3 separate regions of the Homo sapiens genome follow, and all the other regions are linked to region 1. The links come from fine-mapping of genetic effects on gene expression. A gene starts in region 1. Each other region holds a variant in brackets. All regions are shown on one strand. Distances are between the middles of the regions. Region 1 holds the start of SMURF2 (SMAD specific E3 ubiquitin protein ligase 2). Region 2 overlaps SMURF2 (SMAD specific E3 ubiquitin protein ligase 2). Region 3 has its middle 10 kb from the start of MIR4315-2.

Region 1 (4,124 bases):
CAGGCCCGGCTAATTTTTTTGTATTTTTTTTTAGTACAGACGGGGTTTCACCATGTTGGCCAGGCTGGTCTCAAACTCCTGACCTCAAATGATCCGCCCACCTCGGCCTCCCAAAGTGTTGGAATTACAGGCGTGAGCCACTGTGCCCGGCCTATCTGTGGTATTTTTAGTGTGATGTCTAGAACTTCATATACTTTTTTGGATTACTTTTAATTGTAGGGCTGTATCCAAACTGATGAAATGTTCTCGCAGGTAACTATCTGGAGAAGTGAGTTCACTGATGTATTAAAAGAAATGACTGGCATGGAATAAGGATTAAAATATATTAATCCAAAACATTTAAAATTGCATTAATGTTATAATAGCCTAAAGCAAAACTAACGAATCACATAAAAAATCCCCCACGCTATTGTCCTTAGTAGTTTACATTGTGCTAGATACTTTCGCATGTATATGCATACAACTTCTATTCTGTTTTTAAACTTTGCATTACATATACATTCTTCCATATTATATGATCTTCATAAAAATAGTTACATGGCTGCATAAAAAACCATGCGGTTCCTGGACTATTATGCTATTCCCTCATTCCCCTTTTGTTATTAATGGAATATAGCAAAGAACATCTTCTGTACGATTATTTGTCAAGAATAGGGCCGGTGCGGTGGCTCAGGTCTGTAATCCCAGCACTTTGGGAGGCCGAGGCGGGCTGATCGCTTGAGGTCAGGAGTTCGTGACCAGCCTGGGCAACATGGGAAAACCTAAACGTCTCTACTAAACATGTCTCTACTAAAAATACAAAAATTAGTGGGGCGTAGTGGTGCACACTGTGGTCTCAGCTACTCCAGAGGCTCAGGTGGGAGGATCACCTGAGCCCCGGAAGTTGAGACTGCAGTGAGCCGTGTTCGCACCACTGCACTCCAGCCTGGGCGACAGAGGGAGACCCTGTCTAAAAACAAAAAAATAAAAAATAAATTTCTAGCAGTACAGTTACAATGTCAAAGGATAAGGTACACATTTTTTAAAAACTTTTCTCTTTCTCCTCCTGAGATAACGAAATACAGTAGCGTATGAACAACTCTTCATACATTACTCTCCAAGGTTTATCTTGTTAATCCTTTAAGACGTATCATCTCCCCATCCTTGGCTGCACCTGAAAAGAGCGGGAGTCGGCAGGTAACCTGATCTCCTCCACCAGGTGAGTCCCGGATGGAGGTGTCAACTACAAGACCAGGAGCAGAGCATTCCTGGGGTTTTGCTGGAACCATCGGCGTGGGAATGCTTTCTCTTCCCTCGCCCGAAAGACGCCAAGTTCCCGGCAGGCAGCGGACTCGGTTCTAACCTTCCTCGCCCCAGCCTCTCGGAGCGCCCTGCACGCAGTGGGCGTCTAATAAAATGCAGTTGGCCCTGCTTGGACAAAAGTTCTCCCTTAAGTGGCCCGGACAGTAAACCCCTCCAGGTGCCACAGAGCTGCCGCGCCCGCCGCCGCTTTGCTCCCTGCCTGCTCCCTCCCAGCGTTCCGCGTGGGACCCTCGGCGGCAGCTCACACCCTCCCTGACTGCCGGTGCCCGCCAGGGCACCCTGCGCGCGCCCGCCGGCCCCGCCCCGGCCCCGCCCCGCCCCGCCGGCCCCGCCTCCCGTCTCCTCCCCGCCCCCCGGAGCCGACGAGTGGCGGCGGCGGCCCCAGGTCCCGGGTCCCTCAGACAAGAGGGCGGGTGGAGGAGGAAGCGGCCGAGCCCAGAGTTCTGCTCCGGCGCCCCCGAGCACCGCCCGCTTCAGCCGACCAGCCCCGTCGGCTACTGGGCCTCGCCGAGACGAGAGGAGGGAAAGGCCTCGGCGGCCGCGAGGAGGCGGCGGGGGCGCGGGCGGAGGCGGCGCGGGCGGCCGCGGCTGCCGCTTTGTTGTGCGGCCCGGGCCGAGGAAGGAGAAGTGGGAGGAGGGGGGAGCTCGGCGTCCCGCTCCCTCCGCGGCTCATGGCGACGACTCTCGGCACATCCGGGACCCTCCGGCCGTGGCGGCCGAGGCGCCGGCTGCTCGGGCCCCAGCCCCGGCCGCTGTGGTGACTCCGCCGCGCCTCGCCGTCGCCCCCGTGCCGCCCGCCGCCCCCGCCGCCCCCGCCGCCGGGGACATGTCTAACCCCGGAGGCCGGAGGAACGGGCCCGTCAAGCTGCGCCTGACAGGTGAGGGGGGGCGGCGGGCCGGGCTGGGCAGCCGCGGGGTGGGCGAGCTGGCGGGGGGTGCCTGTGGCCTTGGGAAGGGCCAGGGTCGCGATCAATGATGAGTTGGGGGTCGGAGGAATGGGAAGGCCTAGTTCAGGGAGAGTAATTGGAAAACCACTTGCTCTGGTTTGGACATTGTTTAAAAAGCCGAGGATGACTCGGGGCGGGGGGTGGTGTTTTGTGGAGGGGAGAATACACCGGTTCGCATCGCAGGCGGATTTCAGGTCGGAAAGTCTTGGTCAAGGAGCCAGACGCTGCCTCCCGGGGCTCGGGGAACAGCCCCTGGGCTACCGCCCAGGTGAGATCGTGAAGGGGATGAAGAGCTCCCGTGGCGAGGATTATTGAATCCGGTTGCTGACTGCGCGCAGTAAACACTCCTTAAAGATGGAGCGCTTAACGGGAGGGTGTGCGTGTGTGTTCCCGGGTTGTTACCTTGCACACACCCAGTTATGCCCGCATGAAAAACCTTTACTCCCCGCCGCCGGCCACCGCTGCCCGGGCCACACACCTTAAACTCATGTCTCTGAGGTGAGGAGACAGGTTGACTTTTCCGGTGTGCCTGTCTGATCCGACGGCTTGGGCTCATTGTACACTGTGTTTTGGAAGTGTCTGATTGTAGGGTGGCATGTTTGGGGTTGTTCCTTTTAGGCCGCAGAACTTGTGTCTAACTTCTAACGCCAGACCTGCTTTAAAAACACACTTTTTTGGGGGGGGTGCATTGCTAAGTATGTGCTCATACAAACTTTCGAGCAAACTTTCTGTTACTCTCCCCACCCTCCCCATTCCTTTTTCGAAATGGAAAAGAATGTCCGGAGGGGTTGCCAGATAGAAGACTACACTTACAAAGTGTTTATGATTCCAGGTGCATGAAATCTTTAACATTACAGGTACGTTTTGCTTACAGTGCCATTTTTGGTATTCTTACATGGACATGCCACCCCCGTTTTAGGAGAACTTTTATTTGGTTTGTAAAGGAATTGGAATCACGGCGTTATCCTACCTTCACCATTTACCCCTGATAAATTGTCCACGTTTGTATTCGGGTGAGTGGTGAGAAAGATAATTTTCCGTAGAGGATTTGTGTGTGCGTGCACGTGTACGGATAAACTGTAATTATGTTTGCCCACACTAGACTTTGAGATTTATTTGGACTAATTTTGTAGTTAAATGCCTGTGTGTCACATCCCAGTCCACTGGCTGAACTTGCTGGATGAAAACTTGCAGTGAATTTGGTATTTGAGAATTTAGCTTGAATGTATGTTGGCTGCAATTTAAATAATATATTACTTTCATGGCAGTTTTCCTTTCCCTAGGGAAAATTGCAGGGAATCATTAACTGAGTGATTCTTAATGGAAAACCTGGATTGGAGGATACTTGTATTCCACCCCCTCCCCCCTCATTCAGTGTCCTTACATTGGGAGGAGTCAGTGGAAACCTTTATAGGGGATCTTTGTTGCTTTAGAGTTTATCTGTTGCTGTTGCTGTCTGTAGTCAGTGATCGTGGAAAGAACATGTGATCCCAGGTGTGCAGAAAGCATCAGAAATAGGCTGTTTCCATTTACCCTCCTCTGGGCTATGTAGAGAAAATGAGGGAAAAAATTGGGTTTTTGATTTTCTGCAGATAAGGTTAGTTGAGGTTTTTAGTATGACTTAATAGATCTTAAAGTGTTTATCTGTGGTTTCCGTACTGCCTATGATACATTATAAGAATTTATAATTAAAGTTTATTAAGAGGAAAGATTATGCTTATATTTTAGGGGAAGGGGGAATATTGAACTACATTTATAGTGATTTTGTTTCAGGTTTTTCTGAGGAATTTTAAATACCCTGTGTCCTCTTAATAGTAAAAACAGTTTGAGGTACTCTGAGTTTCTTACAACTATTTGTCTCTGAATAGTTTTCTC
Region 2 (4,130 bases), 92 kb after region 1:
ACTAACTTTACAGATTTTAGAATTGCAGTTTATTCTTTAAAAATATGCTGTGATTATTTTCAGGATCATAATTTCAGTAACATTTCCAGTTTTGCTTTGTTGGCGAGCTTAAAATTATGGAATGGACATTTTATGCAAATTTTATGGTATAGTAAAGAAATGAAGGGACATTTTAGAAAGCATTTAATTCTTTATGTCACTGACACTTGTAAAATTACTTCCTGTCAAACACGTGTTGAAATACAGTTTATGTTGGCAAATATTGGGATTGATTTTATATTAATTTAAATCTGTATTACATTAAAGCCTAGGAAATTACTAAAAAATGTAGGCTATGTGATAAGTTTTTCTGAGCCATTTATGGATTGGGCTTTGAAGATGAAAGTTTGTTAAACCATTGGGAATTAAAGATTCCAGCTGAACATCTCAAGTTTCTGAAACAATACATTTTCTCACACTTTGTGGAATTGTTCTGTGTCATTTACACTTGCTTGGTTCAGCAGGGCGAGCAATGAGGTATTTTTTATTTTATATTTGTTTTTGCAGGGATCTTAGCAACATCAATTGTGAAGAGCTTGGTCCATTGCCTCCTGGATGGGAGATCCGTAATACGGCAACAGGCAGAGTTTATTTCGTTGACCATAACAACAGAACAACACAATTTACAGATCCTCGGCTGTCTGCTAACTTGCATTTAGTTTTAAAGTAAGTTTTTGAAACAATACATGTTAAAATGGGAGTTAAACATGATGAAACGCATAGATGCTTTTAATAATAAATGTGAGTCTCGATACAGTGGCTCACGCCTTTAATCCCAGTGCTTTGGGAGGCCGTGGCAGCAGGATCACTTGAGGCCAGGGGTTTGAGACTAGCCTGGTCAATATAGTGAGACCTCATCTCTACAAAAAAAAAGTTGTTTAAATTAAAAAATTAGCTGGGTGTGGTGGTGTATGCCTGCAGTCCTAGCTACTTGGGAAACTGAGGCAGGAGAATCGCCTGAGCCCAGGAGTTTGAGGCTGCAGTGGACTATGATCACACCACCCCAACTCCAGCCTGGGTGACAGATGGAGACCCTGTCTCTTAAAAAATGAAAGAACATCTACTTTCATCAGTTATAATTTACTTTTATTGAGCAAAATTTATGTAAGAGTGTGACAAGGTTTACTCTGATATGAGTATTTTAAACCTACTATGCTTTTAGGTAGGAACCTGTCTTGGAATGTTAGGAAAAGGGTTATTAGAGGTGCTCAAGATGGCCTTTTACAGAGGCAATATCTTGACAGGAGAAGTAGGGGTTGAACAGGCTAATTTTGTGTTGCCATTGTAATACAAAATTATTAATAATTTATATTAATGGCTAACACCTTAGTAGCACTTACTGTGTGACAAGCATTGTTCTTTATACTTTACATATGTTGGTAAGGCCAGGCATGTGGCTCATGCTGTAATCCCAGCACTTTGGGAGGCTGAGGTTGGAGAATCACTTGAGCCTAGGAGTTCAAGACCAACCTGGCCAACATGTGAGTCCTATTCTCTTCAAAAAATTTTTTTAAAATTAGCTGGTCATGGTGGTGCGCACCTGTGGTCCCAGCTACTCAGGACACCGAGGTGGGAGGATCTCTTGAGCTCAGGAGGTCGTGGCTGCAGTGAGCTGTGATCGCGCCACTCATTCTAGCTTGGGCAACAGAGTGAGACTCTTGTCTTTAAAAAGCAAACAAACAAAAACACCCCAAGTTCGTAATTTCATCCTCAGAAAAACTCTGTGAGTTAGCTACTGCCATTTTTACAGATGAGGAAACTGAGGTATAGAGGTTACATGACTTTCCATACGTTGCCAGTGGTGAAGTCTGGAGTGAAACCAGGATGCTCTGGCTTCAGCTGCCTGTGAGGCACTATACTGAGTATTGTGTGTATATTATTTGCATCCTTTGCTTTTCTTTTCTCTCTA[G/A]CTGCCTCATTTCTTCTAACTCTGTTACTTATTAGCATTGCCTTCTGAAGAATGGGGGCAGGAGGAGGAAAAGAGAGAACAGGAAAACTTCATTACTAAGCTAAGTAGCAAAGTGTCTTTTTCAACACTTCTGGCAAAAACACTGAGAGTGGTATAGCAACAAGGATTTTAGGCTAAGAACTTGGAGAGCAAGGTTCACTCTGACCCCTGAATAATTCATTTTAGCTTCTCTAAATGAATGGTGACATTACCTGCTCTGTCTTATTCATTTGTTGTAAAGTTCTTATGTATGTTAAAATGTTAAAAACACAACAAAAATAATAATATACTTTAAAATGACTTCTGAAAATGTCCTTGTTTCATTAATTTTTGGAGTTAGGTTAATAAAGCAAAAAATTTAAATGAGAACTGGCTACCAGTTTTTTAGGATAATAGGAGAAAACATTGAAAATGTGTATCTTTGGTTCCTTCTTCGAAATATGTATAATTATCCTGGCAGTCTCATTATGTCAGCAGATCTTACTTTATTGTAGATAGAAGATTCTAAAACCTTGCTTACAAATGAAGGTCGCAAGTATTTGAAAGCCCTAATGTAAAAGTATCTGAAGAAACAGAGAAGTATGGACTGTTTCTGTGCATTAGGGTCTTTATAGCCTAGATAGCAAAATAAGTGTCATCTGCAGTCTACCCTTTGAGTAACACTGCTCTAGGGCGCTTGCCTGGTTGTGGAATTGCTATGTCGTAGAATATTTCTATCTTCAACTTTAATGTATAAAGGTAACTTTTCTAAAGTGGCTATGCCAGTTTAGTCTTTTACCGGCAATATATGAGTTCCTGTTGCTGCAGAAGCTTGCCAGTACTTGCTGTTGTTGGACTTCAAAATTTTTGCTGTTCTGATGATGTTTAATGGTTTCCCATTGTAACTTTAACTTGAATTTTCCTAATTACTGATGAGGTTGAGCACCTTTTTATAGGTTTATTGACTATTTGGATTTCCTGTTTTTGTGAAGGTCCTGTTCACAATTTTTTGCCATTGTCTATTGAGCTTGAACAGCTTTTTTTTGGCCTATTGACCAGCTGCATCAACTTTTTTTGTTAATTTATATCTTTTTTGCCTATTTTTCTAATGTAATCTTTATCTTCTAAAATTCACACTACAAGTAAATGTTTTTAATACATTTATAGTTTTGTCTTTTACTGTAAAGTCTTTAATCCATGTGGACTTTACTTTTGTGTATGGATTTTTTTTTTTTTAGATGGAGTTTCCCTGTTGTCACCCAGGCTGGAGTACAATGGCGTGATCTCAGCTCACTGCAACCTCCACATCCCGGGTTCAAGCAATTCTCCTGCCTCAGCCTTCCAAGTTAGCTGGGATTATAGGTGCTTGCCACCACGCCGAGCTAATTTTTGTATTTTTAGTAGAGATGGGGTTTCACCGCGTTGCCCAGACTGGTCTCGAGCTCTTGACACCTCAGGTGATCTGCCCGCCTCGGCCTCCCAAAGTGCTGGGATTACAGGTGTGAGCCACCACGCCTAGTTCTGGAATTTTTTTTGAGATGGAGTCTTGCTTTGTTGCCCAGGCTGGAGTGCAGTGGTGCTATCTCAGCTCACTGCAACCTCTGCCTCTTGGGTTCAAGCGATTCTCCTGCCTCAGCCTCCTGAGTAGCTGGGACTACAGGCGCGCACCACCACGCCCAGCTAATTTTTGTATTTTTAGTAGAGACGAAGTTTCACCGTGTTAGCCAGGCTGGTCTCCAACTCTTGGCCTCAAGTGATCCTCCTGCCTCAGCCTCCCAAAGTGCTGGGATTACAGGTGTGAGCCGTTGTGCCCGGCCTGGGTTTTTTTAAAGGGCATATAGGGGCAGCAAATTGGAATTTGGGGAGATGATAAGGAATAAAAGATGTTGGAGCACTCTACAGAGGGCTTTTGTTTTACTTTTGTATCTTAATTGTTTGTTACCTTTCTGCTTCCCCTACTAGACTTTGAATTACTTAAGAAGACGTGTATCCCATTTATTTTTGCTGCTTTAGTATGTAACATACCCAAAGTACTTGACAAATGTACAATGGTAATCAAGAGCCAGTATGGCTCTCTGAGAGGCCCAGGAAGCCTCCAAGAGGTGGTTGTGCTTTATTTACCTCCTGCCTCCAGGATCATCCCTTTAGGTCAAGCTTGTCCAAC
Region 3 (4,130 bases), 150 kb before region 1:
TATTAAATTAATATTTTTAGAAAATACTAGGCCTTGAACATACTCACTTTGCAACATGACCCAGGTTTTAGAGCCGTGCTGTCCAATATGGCAGCTACAAGCCACGTGTGGCTGTTGTACACTTAAAATGTGGCAAGTCCAAATGGAGATGTGCCATGTGAAATAAGCGCTGGATTTCAATAACTTAGTATGATAAAAGAATAGAAAATCTCATTTTTATGGATTACAAGTTAAAATGAAAATATTTGGGGGCTGGGCATGGTGGCTCACACCTGTAACCCCAGCGCTTTGGGAGACCAAGAGGGAGGATTGCTTGAGCCCAGGAGTTGGAGACCAACCTGGGTAACAAAGTGAGACCCCATCTGTACAAAAAATACAAAAATTAGCTGGGCATGGTGGTGTGTGGCTGTACATATAGCATGAGGCTGTAGTTAATTCTTTTCCATTGTTCTGCAGTATTCCATTGTAAAAATATATCGCAACCTATTATCCATTCTCCCGTTAATGGACATTTGGGTTGTTTCCAGGTTTTGACTATTATGAAGAAAGCTGTAGTGAACATTCTCATACATGCTTTTGGAGAAACTCGGTGCTTATTTCTGTGGGTATATATACCTGGGAATGGAATTGCTAGGTCCTTGGGTGGCTTATGTTTAGCTTTAATAGATACCACCACCAAACAGTTTTCTAAAGTGTTTGTGCTAATTTATACTCATATTGGCAACAAATGAGCATTCTAGTTGCTCTTTATCCTGGCCAATGGTGTTACCAATCTTTTTAATTTTAGCCACTCTGGTAGATGTGTAGTGGTTTTAATTTTCATATCCTTGATGACTAAATGATGATACCTTTTCATTTGCTTATTGGCCAGTCAATCCTCTTTTATAGAATGTCTGTCCAAGTTGTCATTCTGGTCTTAAATTGAGTTGTATGTGTATGTGTTGATTTGTAGGAACTCTTTATATATTACAGATATAAGTCTTTCATTGGACAAAAACTATATTTATCAAGTATCTTTTTCTAGTCTATAGGGCTTGACTTTTAAACCTCCTAATGGTATTTTTATTGAACAGAGGTTCTTTTAATGATGTGCAGTTTATCAGTCTTTTTGTTTATGGTTTGCTTGGTTTTTGTCCCATTTAAGAGATACTCATCTCCCCCCAAGGATCTGAAGGTATTTGCCTATATTATCTTCTAGAAGCTTTAGTGATTTATCTTTCACAATTAGGTTTATGATCTTTCTGGGATTAATTTTTATGTGTGGTGTTAGAAGTCAAACCTCATATTTTTCCATATGGATATCTGATTGGCCTCGCTCTGTTTCTTGAATATGACCATGTAAATCACAAAACCGTCAGTGTGGGTCAGAGTCTTCGAATTTGCTATCCTGAAGATGCTTCAGTACATCCTGAAGATTTACTTCCTGAAAATGAATGCTCTAGGACCCTGAAGGTTGTGACTGTGCACCTGCCAACTCAAGCTGAAGGCTGAAGAGGAAAGCTCTGCAGCCCCTTCCTCAAGCTGGAGGCAGAGTGACGTCTGCTGGGGATGCAGGCTGTGCGCCCCACAGGACTCCAGAGTGGCACTAAGCATGTTGAGTTCACTCCTGCCCATGGTCTAGCTTCTGCTTTGCAGGCTCAGGCATCTTATCTTGCCAGGGCCTCAAAGCTGGTGGGACAGAATAGCATCTTTGCTCACTAAGCTCTGACCCACCGGCCTCCTTGCAGCTCTGTAGTCCAAGCGAACTCCTTCCAACATCAGGCTTCTTTGAAAAAAAAATTTTTTTTTGAGGCAGAGTCTCACTCTGTCACCCAGGCTGAAGTACAGTGGTGCAATCTCAGCTCACTGAAACCTCCGCCTCCTAAGTTCAACTTATTCTTATGCCTCAGCCTCCCAAGTAGCTGGGATTACAGATGCCTACCACCATGCCCAGCTAATTTTTGTATTTTTACAAAATTATGGGGTTTCACCATGTTGACCAGGCTGGTCTCAAACTCCTGGCCTCAAGTGATCTGCCCACTTTGGCCTCCCAAAGTGCTGGGATTACAGGCATGAGCCACCGTGCCCGGCCCAGCTTCAGGGTTTTACATTTGCTGTTCCTTCTTTCCCGACTCACTTCATTGTTGTCTCAGCCTTCCCTGACCGGACCCCCGTAGCTCAAAAGCACCATCCCCAGTGACTCTCTGTCCCATTCATCTGCTTGACTTCGCTTATAACACTCATCACTATGTGCAATTACAGTATATTATCTCTTTGTCTCCTTGTTTATTTTCTGTCTTCCTTACTAGAATATTAGC[T/C]CTATGATACAGAGCACCAGGCCTGTTCACTTCTGTATTGTCAGCACCAAGCACTGTACCTGGGAGAAAGTAGGCATGGATGAATAGTTCTTGAACTCCCAAGAGACTCTTGAGATGCCAATTCCTAAGTTTATTTTGTTCCCCCATCCTAGCTATAACGCTGTTTGGAATGGTTCTTTTTCTTGGTATCTCCAGCAAGTACCTGGCCCAGAATCATACAAGATGTGTGAATAAATCATGACCATCCCAATGTCTTTAATATAAAATAACAAAGATAAGTCAAGGGGACTTGAAGGAAGGAGACAAATGTGAAACTTAAGATTATGGACGTTCAGGCGAGGCGTGATAGCTCACGCCTCTAATCCTAGCAATTTGGGAGGCCAAAGTGGGTCAGCGAAGTGTACCATCGAGTGGACAGGGTGGTCAGGTTGGTGTGATCATGGCAGGCTCTGCCTCTGTGCCAGCTACAGGGGACTCTGATTGCTGGAAGGTTGCTTAGCGAATGTGACATCTAAGCGCTTGGTGCTGAGTCCGATGTGAGAATCTCGGATCCTGCCCCCGTCCTGTGTCTGTCTCACAGGGAAGTTGTGGATTCATTCACTGCTTATTCAGTAGGTAGTCACCAGGTGCCACTGAATAGCCTGCCAGCTCATGTGGGCCTGCTGGGCTCCTGGCCTGTGGACAGTGCCAGGCTGTGCCCTGCATATCTGCCCCTGTGGTCCTCATCTTTCTATACTTCTATCAGTTAGCCACGTGCTTTTTATTTGATGTTATTTTGGGGGAGATGTTGGGGTCACTGTCAAGTTTTATAGTGTAGAGGCCCATTCAGTCTTTCTTTTAAAAACATTTATTTTTAATTCATTGAACCCAAAGCACCTACTATAAGCCAAGCACCATGTTAGGTCCTAGGGGTAGAGTGATACAACAGGACAGACAAAGGCTCTTTGGGGACAGACATTAAATTAGACAAATGATTATCCACATCATAATTACACTTGTGCTAAGCACTGGGAAGGAGAGGTGCAGGGAATAGGGGCCTCTCAAGGGTGACGCATGTCTGGGATCTGGGGGTTGTGAGTTGGTTTCAGTTTAACTCCCAAAAGGCAGTGTGAGTTCTAGGACTTGCTCTTAATCACTGCCCCCATGGACCACCTGCCCATGGTATGTGGTTCCCCTTCCACAGTTATGAGTACAGGCAGTTCCTTTGCCTGGCATAATGAGGACTGGCTGGACAAAGTCTCATCCTTCTGAAAGTGTCCCAGAGACCTTCGTCTCACTCCTCAGCCACATTCCTCTTGGGGATTCAGCTGTTGTATATGGTGTCATGAGCCCTTTAGTAACGCAAGGTGGCATTTCTCTGTCTTGGGTCCCTGGTGGCAGTTGCAGCTCTGGTATAGATCCTTAGTCGGTGATGGTTTCTCTCCACTGTTAAAGGGCAGGGTGCTGGCCAGACATGGACCCTGAGTGAGCAGGTTGTCGGAAGGTGGTGGGAAAAAAGGAGAGAAGGGGTCCAGGTGCGGTGGCTCACGCCTGTAATCCCAGCACTTTGGGAGGCTGAGGCAGGTGGATCACCTGAAGTCGGGAGTTTGAGACCAGCCTGAACAATATGGTGAAACCCCGTCTGTACTAAAAATACAAAAATTAGCCGGGCATGATGGCGTGAGCCTGTTATCCCAGCTACTCAGGAGGCTGAGGCAGGAGAATCACTTGAAACTGGGAGGCAAATGTTGCAGTGAGCTGAGATCACACCACTGTGATCCAGCCTGGGCAACAGAGTAAGACTCCATCTCTAAAAGAAAAAAAGGAGAGAAGAGAGAAACAGTGGTGTTCATG

Evidence for each region. PIP is the estimated chance that this variant, and not a neighbour inherited with it, causes the effect.
Region 2: its variant is fine-mapped to the expression of SMURF2 in whole blood (TOPMed, PIP above 0.99).
Region 3: its variant is fine-mapped to the expression of SMURF2 in whole blood (TOPMed, PIP above 0.99).

Annotation. Positions count from the first base shown.
Region 1 is chr17:64,659,885-64,664,008 of GRCh38, reverse strand. SMURF2 (SMAD specific E3 ubiquitin protein ligase 2) reads left to right here and starts at 1,702. Exons shown (of 19, transcript NM_022739.4): 1 at 1,702-2,180. The coding sequence starts at 2,129. RefSeq lists an enhancer at 850-1,408 and silencers at 1,559-1,958, 2,009-2,208.
Region 2 is chr17:64,568,373-64,572,502 of GRCh38, reverse strand. It overlaps SMURF2 (SMAD specific E3 ubiquitin protein ligase 2), which reads left to right. Exons shown (of 19, transcript NM_022739.4): 10 at 547-705. Among named protein-coding and RNA genes, the nearest start is that of CEP95, 63 kb to the right of the region's middle. The variant G/A (reference allele first, on the strand shown) is at 1,949.
Region 3 is chr17:64,810,020-64,814,149 of GRCh38, reverse strand. It overlaps the pseudogene PLEKHM1P1. Among named protein-coding and RNA genes, the nearest start is that of MIR4315-2, 10 kb to the left of the region's middle. The variant T/C (reference allele first, on the strand shown) is at 2,298.